Linked DNA regions of Homo sapiens: region 2 is linked to region 1. The links come from fine-mapping of genetic effects on gene expression. Tissue or cell type: monocytes. Region 1 holds a variant in brackets; the other region holds the start of a gene. All regions are shown on one strand. Distances are between the middles of the regions.

Region 1 (6,444 bases):
TGCCGCCTCTATTCGCTGAAAGGGAGAGGGAAACAAGCTGAGATCAACTAACCTTCAGGAACAGCTGGAAGAGAGAATGAAATGTGAACAACAAATAGCCAGAAAATGAGTGTCTCTTTTGTAGATGACATTTTTATATTACTGAAGTTCAGGAGGATTATAGAGACTTCCCCAATTTCTATCGTATCAACTTGCTTAGTCTTCTGATTTGTTTTTAACTTAAGGAAGTGCTTATTACCCTGTTACATAAGTATATATATAATAGGTTATGTATATTTGAAAAATACCATCATAGACAGCCAATGCACATTGGTCTTCATGATGAATGCATCCCATTCTCAGTCACCTGTTCACACCTCCAAGCACATGATTCCATTATCTCAGATGCAATACATCCTGTCACTCTTCTAACATTTTGGCACAGAACTTACCTAGTATATCTCTGAATGGCACATTTCTTTTTTGCTTCTTTTCTATCAAAGTGTATTCTTTTAGGAAAACAGAAACATATCTAGATAAATAACAAAGCACTCTGCCATGAAAGACCTTTAGCAAAGCAAGAGCCAGCCAAGATCTGTACGTGTTGATTACAGCCAATACATTCAACCAACAAACAGATGCAAATGGGTGTTAGAGGGACACAAAGCAATAAAGTTTTCTATTGTGCTGTGCTGCACAGCACTGCAATTATAGGCACATCTGCAGTCAATTATATTTTCTGAGGATTGAATGGAAAGGCTTTCATTTCATTTTTCTACCTGCACTGAAAGCCAGATATTGCCATTGCATACATTTCAGCATCCTGATTTTAGATCTTTCAAATCTAGTCACAAGACGACTTTCTACTCTGACAGACTCCCCTCCTTACACAGCCCTACCCTTGTGATGGCCAGCAAACAGATCAATGCTCTTTTCACAGATTCTGAGAAAATCTGCTGACTGGAGAATATTTTTTCACAGTAAGCAGATGAACAACAACAATAAAAAAATGGATGGAAATAATGAAATAAAGGATAAAGGAATTGGCAACCAGGAGCTTGGCTAACAGAAAATAATTTGCTAGTTAATAAATTGAGCTTGAACATGACAGAGTTGAAATGTAACCTTTGCAAGTAGAATCTACAGGAATTCAAATGTGAAATGTTGGAAAATACAGTGACAGAGCTGCCTTTGTTTAATGGTCATCCCAATGTTTTAAGGAGAATTGCAAATTCTATGAAAGTGGAAGAGAGAGATAAAAACAAAAGAATATCTTCTCCATTTTTTTCTAGAACAAAATGGATTCTAAAAGTATTTGTGAGAACGCTTAGATAAATGAACAAGATAAGATACACATATATGTCTACCTTGAATTTACTTCAGTAAAATGATTTTTAAAATTTATACAACTCAAATAACTTTTAGTAGATCTGCCCACATTTCTAGATGAAAAAATAATATCATATACTAAGGTTAAGTTGTACAGTATGGCTTGAATTATAAAAGCAGCTCTTCAGACATCTTCTTTTATGTATGTGCTTCCTGTCGACTTTAAATTTGCAATTTTTGTAGATATTTTTCTACTCTGTTGAGTAGGTTATAAAGGCTTAGATTAGGTAACTGCCCTTTCTTTTTCAAATGGAAGAACATGGTAATTTATAATAGCCTCATTAGTACATTGCAGAAAATCACTAAATATCTTGTCTCCACTGTAAACTCTGAGGCTGGTATCAGAACTATAGAAACATGAAATATTTCTAACATCCAGTGTTAATAATCTAACATCCAAAAGGGAAACCTGAAATCCCAGAAGGATATTTGTTACAGAATGTAGCACAAATTGACATTAAACATTTAAATTGCCTTTAGACAAAAATCTTCCCACCACAAGTCCTTCAGAGGCCTGGTCAAGCATTATCTGTTTTACTTATGAATTGACAAGCTAAAGATGTCATAGTGACTCAGAGATGGAGGGCCAACTAGAGACCAAGTGATCTATTAATAGATGGAGACATTAATAGATTCTGAGACAGGAAACTTTTTCCTTAAGGCTACATAATTAGTTAACACATTAAAGATGGAGTTGATGAGCTTCTACCCACCATTCCATAGTTCATCTGGAGAAGATATAATTCAGTCCTATTCTCAGTCCAATGAACTTTGGGAAATGTGCTTACCTTTCATGAGGGATGACCTACTGAAATTGTAAGATCAAAATAATTTATTCTATAAATGATGTGAGACAAATAATTACTTCTCTGTTTATGTGTCTGTCTTTTCCTCTCTCCCAAAATAAAAAATTAGGTCAAAGCTTCCTAAAGTACAACTTTTTGAATTAAGGTTTGCAAGATTTCCCAGAGTGTAATATGGGGATCAGTGATCAGACGACATATTCTGTGAAGACAAAAGGCCCTATGATTAACTATATCTAGGATATAAAAAAGTTTAAAATGTTAGGTCCTATTATGTATCCTTTTTATATTGTGTATCATTTTATCTTATTGTTTATCTTTTTTTTTTTTTTTTTTTTTTGAGACAGAGTTTTCCTTTGTCGCCCAGGCCGGAGTGCAGTGGCGCGATCTCGGCTCACTGAAACCACCGCCTCCTGGTTTCAAGTGATTCTCCCGCCTTAGCCTTATCCTTTTTAATAGGACATAAAAAGCTCTGAGTAAGCTCTGAGTAAGAGTCTTGCTTAACTTCATATGTTCCCAAATTCACCTGACTATGAAAGCCTTTTTTGCTTTACTCCTATGAGAATAATTTGAAACTACTGTCCAAAGAAACAGTTTTTGAGAAATATGTAGCTAAAAATGATGAACTGGGAAACTACACCTCCAATCTCTTTGTGTCCGTTGCTTCATTTCTGAGATGTCATATAAATACATTAAAATTTAAAACCCAGCTGTCTCAAAACCCCATTTCAGGATGATGCCAAGTTTTCCGAGACATCAAGGCACCCTGCCTGTGCTCTGATCTGGTAGCTGTGGCTGGCTAAGCAGGGTGCTTTGTTGATGAAGATGGCCTCTTCAAGGAATGATCAGATCTGTCCACTGGAACCAAGCACATTCCCCAGTAGTGGGAATTGTACACATTAATGCAGGAATAAAATTAATTAAGTAATGAATTCTCTGTTTATAAGTAAACAGAGGGGAGAAAGATGGACAGCTTGCTGGTCATGAATAAGGGTTTATCACTGAAATGGAAGAAGTAAGCCTACAAGCACAGAGCAGAGACAAGAGAGGGCAAGTGTCAGAGCTCCCATCTTTACATCAACAGCTCTCAATCAGGGGCCACAGCCCCCCCACCCGCCAGGAGAGGCTTAGGAACGTCTGGAGAAATGTTTGCTTGTTGCCACTGAGATGAGGTGAGGTAGAGGTACCATTGGCATCTATTTGTAGAGGTCAAGAATGTCACTTATCCTACAAGGCACAGGACAGCCCCCACAAGAAAAGAATGTTCTGTCTCAGATGCCAATAGTGATGCTGTTGAGAACCCCTTGTCTGTACTGAGCTCATTGTTTTTTTCATTTGGACAAAGTAGAAGTGGTCAACTGAGGTATTTTTGTGTAATGGCAAAGGCATATGCAACATTGCTTCATGAGATGCAGTATAAAGACTTCCCCATTGTTTTGTTTTCGTGTTTCTATGTGATGTTCTCTTCTCCAAGGGAGAAGGCTTCTTCTCCAAGGGAGTCATTATTAGAGACTGCACAACCAAGCCTAAGAGCAAACATGCATAAAACAACTAATAATATGAAATACAAGCAATGCCATCAAGTTCTCATGGTGATAAATCACTGCTTAGAGGAGAAGGTTTAAATGCTCTAGGAGGATTTTGCAATTCTTCTATTGATTTATTGCCACTTCCTCAGATTGTCTTTTAGAAGATTGAAAGAAA[TAA/T]GTCTATAAATAATCTGATTGCAAATAAAACATATTTGATTAATGTCTATCAACAGTGTGAATAGCAATGAACCCCTCTTATTTTTAATATGGATTTGTGTGTGTGTGTGTGTGTGTGTGTGTGTGTGTATTCACACAAATACATGCATGCTATTCTTAAAATATCTATTTCTTGAGTTTCCCAAATTAAGTTTAATGGTTGATGCAAAAATTATGACACTGCCTGATGTGGTTCTAAATGTATGTGAAAGAAATATTTATGAAAATTATATTATAAATAGAGGAAGATAAAAGGATAAGAGTTCTATATCTTATTTGAACTGGTAATATGACACTAATAACACATATATATATATAACTTTATATATACATAATCTTCATACACACATACATGTGTATATACACACACATATATAAAGTAATTCTTAGAGCAACTAATATATAAAAGCTGTATGTTTTGGTCTGTTTAGGCTATTGAACAAAACACCATAGACATGGTGAGAAACTTATTTTCTCACAGTCCTGGATGCTGGAAGTACAACAGTCACTGGAATATTCAGTATCTGGTGAGGACTAGCTTTCTGGTTCACAGACAGCATGTTTTTACTACGTCCTCACATGGCAGAAGGAGCACGGGCGGTCTCTGGGATCTCTTTTATAAGGGCACTAATCCCATTCACGAAGGCTCTGTCCTCGTGACCTCCCAGAAGACCACCTCCTAATACTATCACATGGGAAATTACATTTCAACACATGAATTTTAAGGAAACACAAACACTCAGTCTATAGCATTCTACCCCTGGTCCCCCAGCCCTTATGCTTTTAAATAATCCATTGTCAAAGAGGAAGTCTCAAAGGAAATTTAAAGAATACATTGAACTAAATACAACATATGAAAATTGGTGGGACACGGCTAATGTGGTGTTGAGAGGGAATCTGTAGCACTAAATGCACACATTAGAAAAGAGGAAAAGTTTGAAATCAGTCAGTAAGCTCCCTCTTCAAAAACCAAAAACAAAGAAGAGCAGGGAAAAAATAAAACTAAACAGAAAGGAGAAAATAGTAAAGACTATAAATCAATGAAACTGAAAAGAGAAAAACCATAGAGAAAATCAATGAAACAAAGAGCTGAAAAGATCGATAAAATTACCAAACCTCTAGCAAGACTGACAAAGGAAAAAAGAGAGAGAGAACACACATGCTATCAATATCAGAAGAGAAAGAGAAGATATAACCACAACCCTGCAGATTTCAAAAGGACACTGGAGGAATCCCACAAACAACTCTAGCCACATAAATTTGAAATTTTGGAGGAAATGGATCACTTTCTCAAAAACCAAAAACAACCAAAACTCACCCATTATAAAACAGATAATTTAAATAGCCCTATAGCTTAAAGAAATTGAATTTGTAATTTAAGAACTCCTAAAACAGAAATCTACAGGCACAGGTGGTTTCACTGCAGAATGCTAGCTAAAAAGTTTTTGTAGATTTTCTTTCTAAAGCTAAGGAAGTTCCCTTCTGTTCTTAGATTTGCTCTTTAAGAGAATCAAAAGACATGCTACAGAGTGGGAGAAAATATTTCCAAATTGCATATGGAGATGACCATAATATCCAGGAAATAAAAAGAACTCTCAAAACTCAAGAGCAAAAGAAACCAAACAATTCAATTAGAAAATGGTCAAAGATATGAAGAAATATTTCACTGAAGAGAATATATAGATTGCAAATAAACATTTGAAAAGACAGTCAATATCATTATCCATTAGGGAAATGCAAATTAAAACTGCAATGAGATATCACTACAAACCTATCAGGAAGGCTAAAGTAAAATATGTTGACAACACCAAATGCTCTGAACGATGTGGGCAAACTACATTATTCATACATTGCTGGCAAGAATGTGAAATGGGACAGCCACTCTGGGAAATAGTTTAGCAGTTTTTAAAAAAATCTATCGTGCAACTATTTTATGATCTAGCAATAGCACTTTTAGGCATTTATCCCAGAGAAATGCAGATTTATGTTCACACAAATCCTGTATGCAAATGTTTATAGAGATTTTATTTGTAATAGCCCCAAACTGGAAACAACTCAATTGTTTTTCAATGGGTGAATGATTAAACCAGCTCTGGTACATCTCTGTCATGGAATACTACTCATAAACAAAAAATAATGAAAATTGATACACAAACAACCTGAATGAACCTCCTGAGAGTTACGCTGAATGCAAAAAGTGAATTCTAAGTTATATTATGTATCATTCCTTTTATATAAGATTCTTAAAATGACAAAAATTATAGAAATAGAGAACAGGCCAGTGGTTGCTATGGGTAAGGGGTGTAGAGAGGAGGGAAGACAGAGTGGTTATCAAAGTGCAACATGAAGTATCTTTGTGTGGCAGAAATGTTCTCTATCTTAATTGTATCAATGTCAATATATTGGTTGTAATTTTGTACCCTAGTTTTGCAAGATGTTACCATTAGTAAAAACTGGGTGAAGGGTATATGGGATTTCTCTGTATTGTTTCTTGCAACTGTATATGAATCTACAAATATCTAAAAATA
Region 2 (5,722 bases), 520 kb after region 1:
GCACGAAGGCGGAGTGCCTGTGTCCCGGCAGTCGGCCTCCACTGCCACCTCCTGGTGGGTAGGCAGGCATCATCTCTGTGTACTCCTCAATGGAAGCCACTGAGGACTGGGACGGGGTCTTCTGGTGGGTAATGGTAGGGGATGTGCCTGCCGAGTGAGTTCTCTTTCGGAACCGATTATCCAGATCTGCAGCACTGGCTGCTTCATCCCCAGCCAAGGCTGGACTCGTGCCCAAGCCTGTTCCTGGGGTGCAGCGGTGGCCATTGCCACCCCGAGACAAAATGTAGTGACCGTTGGGGGCGGTCAGGGTGGAGGGCCCCTTGCCACCCATGCAGATATAGTTGCTTAGCTCCTCCTCACCGCGGGCTGGTGGGGTGTGGCCCAGGGAATCCGGAGTGACACTGCGGAAGGAACTCCGGAAATCGCAGGGACTGGAGCCATACTCATCCGAGGAGATGAAACCGCCATCGCTGGGGGAACCAGACACCGAAGCACTAGATCGCCGTGGGAAGAGACAATCCGAGGTGGAGCCATGGCCACTGGTGCTACTGGACGACAGACTGACCGGGCTGGTGGCCGAAGGCGAGCAGCGGGAAGCCGGCATGGGGATGGAGCGGCTGTGGTTGAGCGGGGGGTGCAGCCGGGCGCTGCCCCGATGCCGGTGGGCGTGGGTTCTGTTGGTGCTGGGACTCACAGGGCTGCCGTCCACCGAGGCTGGGCGGGACATGGTGCCTTCGCCGTCACTGGAGGCGCGGACACGGAAGGAGCCTGGCTTCCCGCCCACCATGCTGGCCGGGGAGGTGGCGGTGATGCTCTCAGTGCGTGATCGGCGGGTCAGCCCCACCTGGCTGGGCGGGGGATTGTTGAGATGGTGCCGGCGCAGGGGGACGCTGATGGGGTTAGAGCAGTTGGACGAGGACTGGCTCTTGCTGCGAGGGCGGAACTCATCACTCATGGCCCGCATGGCCTCCAGGATGGTCTCGTGCATGTTCTGGGCCACCACAGAGTCATCCACCTGCATCCAGAACTCCCCGGGCCCCGTCACGGCAGAACGGCCCACCTCGATGAAGAAGAAGTTTTCCGAGTGGCCACAGCGCCTGATGTTCATCAGCTGCAGCACCACGGCCGCTGCCTCCGAGTTCAGCTTCACGAAGCTGATGGTCTTGCTGGTCAGGCAAAGGCGGTAGATACCAATCAGGTTCTTTGTCTGACCCAGGCCCTTGGGCTTCAGGATCACTTGCCAGACCTCTTTGAATGCGGGTCCTGGGGGCACGTCACCGTAGCTCAAGTCCTCCCCAGCCTCACCAAGGCCGGAGCTGCCGCTGCAGCTGCCCCCACCACCTCCCGCCCCGAGGGCCGCAGCTCCGTCGTGGTGGCCCTTAGCACGGTTGTGCAGCTGTAGGAGAGCCTGGTACCAGCTGTCTTGCTCGGCCTCGCTGTCCGCCGCGATGGCAAAGTGCTCGTCCCGGGTGTAGAGAGCCACCAGGTGCTTGTTCTTGGAGTCAGCCCGCTTGTTGATGTTGAAGCAGCTCTCAAGGGGGATCGAGCGTTTGGGGGCGCTCGACTTGTGCCGCCACTTCTTCTCGTTCTCGTAGTACTCGAGGCGCGCCGGGCCCCCAGCCTCGCTGGCCGCGCGCAGTACGAAGAAGCGTTTGTGCATGCTCTTGGGTTTGCGCAGGTAGCCCACCTTGCGCACGTCCGAGAAGCCATCGCTCTCCGGAGGGCTCGCCATGCTGCCACCGCCACCACCAACGCTGAGCAGAGGGAGGCTCCGAAAAACAACCGGGTGGGGGGCGGAGGCTCCTCGCCGCGGCCCGGCACATGCAAACAGGGCTGGAGGCAGCAGAAACCCCGACTCTGAAATCCACGCCGCCCCCCGCGCCGGGGAGGGGCAGCTGAAGGAGGACGCAGCTGCTGAGCCCAGGAGAGAGCCCGACCGGAGTTTTCGGGCGCTTCACGCCCGGCGGGGAGGCAGTGCGTCCGGGGTGAGGGCAGCCCCGATCCTCCGAGAGCCAAGTCTCCTCTCAGCCGCCGCCGCCACCAGGAAGGAGCGAAGATGCATCTCTCGTCGCCCCGGCTGGAGTCCGGCACAGGGAGGCGACAGTCGGGGGTCCCTGCGGTGCCCCTCCAGGAGCGCGCGCGCGCGCGCGCCTTCCCTCCTGAGTTCCCCTCTGGAAGCAGCGATTCCCGAGGCAAATTAAATATCCTTGGGCAGGGGGAGGCGGGTTGCCAAGTCCCAACGTTGCACGGGGTTCTCCCTCCTCCTTCGCCTCCTCCCACCCCCCAACCGTCCCAGCCGCCACCAGCCGCCCAAATACCAGCTCAGTCGCAGAGACCGCGGCGCTGCGGCTGTTGCTGTTGCTGCTGCTGCTGCTGCTGCTGCTGCCGCCGCCCGCGGGCGCGTCCTCTGCAGCCCCCATCCGGGCCCATCTCGGCGGGTGGAGAAAGTGGCTTTTCCATGCGAAACGATACCGGGCAGCCACTGCAGCTGGGGACCGGCCGGAGGGACAGACTCATCCCTGCCCCTCGCTCCAGGCGGCTGGGGAGGAGGGGAGGGGACAAGGGCGAGAGGGGATGGGGGAGGTTTGGGAAGGGTTCGGGGAAGACGCCTGTTCCTCGGGAGGCGCTGCCGCTGCAGTTACTTCTCCCCTCCTCCCTCCTCCTCCTCCTCCTCGGAGAGTTGCCGAGAGCCCCAACCAAAACAAGCGGCGGCGTCTGGCTCTGCGCGCCGGCCCCCTCCGACCGCGCCGCCGTCTCACTCGGAGGAGAAAAACACGTGACGGAGCCTCCGCGCTCGGCAGCCGGGCAGCCGCCGCCGGGAGGCTCCCGCCCGGGTCTCTACATTCCGGGCCGAGCCCGCCCCGCGCCCGCCCCTCTCCGCCCCCCAGCCGTGCTGCAGCGGCGCCCGCGCCGACCCCGGCGCAGCGCTAGGACAGCGCCCCTGCGCGGCCGCCAGCTCCGGCGCAGCGCCTCCCTACACGCGCGCCAACCGGGGCGCCCCCGGCCCGCAGGAATCCCCGCGGCGGGCGCAGGCGGGGGTGTTTGGGTGGCTACCCGAAAGCACGAGGGGAGTCTGGGAAAACGGGAGGGGGCGAGCTCGGGAAGACGCAGGAGTGAGGGTGGGGGGCCACGGGGGGGCACTGCGGCTACAGAGCCCCGAGTGGGAGGCCGGGGGGAGGCGGGGGCGCCGGAGCTGGGCTGCCTCTTACCTATCAGGTAAGACTGACCCACGGGAGGGAGGTTTCTAGTCAAGGCTGTTTCCCCCAGGAAATTTAAAAGCTAGATTTCGGCTTCAGGGCGATAGGCCATGGTGAGGGGATCTGTATTTTTTAAGGTTTTTCTAAAGGACTTCTGGGCCAGCCTTCCACCTTGGGATCCCCAGATTTGCTGCCGTGAGGTACCTGGAAGGAACAGAGGGACGCCCAAGGGCAGTGACTGGGGGCAGTTATGGTCACTACAAAAGGAGAACAGGGATCCCCAGGAAGTGTCTCACGTCCGGCGCTGTGGAATTAGTTGCTGATCAAGTAGGGAGAAAATGTAAATATCACCTTTTCTCCTGCTCCCCTTGCCCATCCGTGTGACGGGGGGACTCACACCTAAGGCTGAGGGCATGGGGGAGGGGAAATGAGAGGTCCCTTATCATATTCCGAAGTCTATCCGTGACTTTAAAAAGCTGTTAGGGACCTTCAGAGGGTTCATAAGGCCAAAACCCTACTGTGCAAATATTGGCTGAAATGTTTGTTTCACACACAGCTCCCACACCCATTGAACCACCCTATAAGTTTTTAACCTTGACCACAAGGATAACAGGGAGAAAACAAGGATGGTGCCAGCTCAACTGTACAGGAAAATGGTTACTTCATGAGTGGACCAGATCAGCAGCCTGGGTCTACTTGAAGCGCCCCTTTCAGGGTCACCTTGCGGTATCAGTCTCCCCACAAACAAACGCTCCCCAGAGTTTTTTTATTTTTTAAGCCGACCTATAAACAAGCAGTTTGTCCCTGCTTGCTCGCCTGGCACTAAGGACCCACAGAGATGTCACTCGGTTTAATGCTGTCTCATTTTGATGCCTGGCCCGTTTGGGGTTGCCGCCCCTTTACTACGCCGGGACCCTCCTCGGCCTCAGGCTCCCAGGCACTGCAGGATGCTGGCTGGGCACTCAGCAGTCGAGGCGCTGGGCATGCTCAGTGGCTGGGACCCGGCGGGCCGCGGGGGAGCGCGCCTCGGCCCAATGCGGCTGAGGGGCGGAGCGAGTTTCCCGGGGAGGCCTGCTGATTGGTGGGATGGCCTGTTTTTCAAGCCTTGCACTGCAGAGGGAAGGTGGGGGTAGAAGGGTTGAGGGTACCAAGGTAGGTTGCAAAGCGTAGTAAAAAAAGAAAAAGAAGATGATGATGATGAAGGAGAAAAAGAACCATAGGCGCCATTCAGGGGTGTGCGATACGTAAATTAGGGGGATTGGGCATCTGCAGAGGGGCTCCTCCCCACCCAAGCCTGGGAGCCTCTCGTTTCTCCTCTCCCCTTCCTGTTCCCGGTCGTCATGCAGCCTCATCTAAACCTGGTTAATCTATAATTTGAGTACACATGTTGAATTGAAAGCCCTCCCTTCTTTTCCTCTGACAGCTTGGTGATGTGGGCACACGTGCCCACTACAGCAAGGCTATTAATAGCAGATATTTGGAAATGGAAGCGAGGCGGCACTCACAGTGACCGAAATTCTGGGGGTATAGAGTGCCTTACAGGGGGTAGGGCAGGGAGGTGCAGAATAAAGAAGCCTGAAGTTGGTGGAAAAGTGTAACTGTGTGCCTGGTTTTACCCTAGACAAGAAAAAAGAGAGATTATAAAAGGGTTGTTTACTAGTAACAATGTAATCCAGATAAGGCCAAAGGGCTTTTCACAGGTTTGATGTTTAGCGCTGGGATGGGGGTAGTGGAGTAATTAACATTTTGTAAGACAACAAATCAAATCCATGGACATTTACTTTTCAAATGGCCCTGTCCCTACCTCCGTCCCTCCACCCCCCACCCCCCAAAAAAAGCTAAATAAAGGTACTGTACCTCTATGGGGGAAAAATACTCTTTTCTGGAAGGAGGGGAGGGTTGGAAAATTTATTTGCACGTACCTCACAATTATCTTCATAGGAAGGATTTTGATCATAAAAAGCTAATTATGATAATAAACCTTTTAAAAAATATATCTCTCAGTGTTAAAGCATTTCTGCTTTAAAAAACACAATTTCAGTTGCTAAATATTCGATAAAAATTATGAAATAAGCCTCACTGCTGTGACAAATTATGTTCAGACCAATGGGTTTCCTATGGAAGATAATCACTGATCATAGGATATTAGTGCCATTTTTTCTACTTGCTGATGTTTTACTACCAATTTAAAGGTGGTTAATATTTGTTATAATTATACTACAGTAAATTCAATTGTTCTCTACAATTGTTTTATTAATGGGCTAACTGGAAATTCATTTACATTTGGTTCATGTAATATATAGAATAGAAAGAGACGCGTTTGTGGGAACTCACTGAAGTAATGCTGAGCAGGTATGGGTATTATTCTGTCACCTAAGCTAAATTAGTCTTTTGGTGTATTGTAATGAAATACACTGTATGAAAAATTTACTCCCCACTGAAAATTCACGGAACAGAAGAACAAGCTATTACCAAAATCTGTTGCTCAATGCTGCCATCTATAGGAGAGTTAGAGCCGATTTGTG

The links. PIP is the estimated chance that this variant, and not a neighbour inherited with it, causes the effect.
Region 2: IRS1 starts here. The variant in region 1 is fine-mapped to the expression of IRS1 in monocytes (Quach 2016, PIP 0.95).

What each region holds. Positions count from the first base shown.
Region 1 is chr2:226,271,699-226,278,142 of GRCh38, forward strand. No RefSeq gene overlaps it. Among named protein-coding and RNA genes, the nearest start is that of MIR5702, 380 kb to the right of the region's middle. The variant TAA/T (reference allele first, on the strand shown) is at 3,876.
Region 2 is chr2:226,797,007-226,802,728 of GRCh38, forward strand. It overlaps IRS1 (insulin receptor substrate 1), which reads right to left and starts at 2,814. Exons shown (of 2, transcript NM_005544.3): 1 at 1-2,814. The coding sequence starts at 1,732. It also overlaps a transcript of RHBDD1 not described here. RefSeq lists an enhancer at 1-902 and silencers at 1,633-1,682, 2,673-3,092, 3,113-3,182, 4,143-4,352.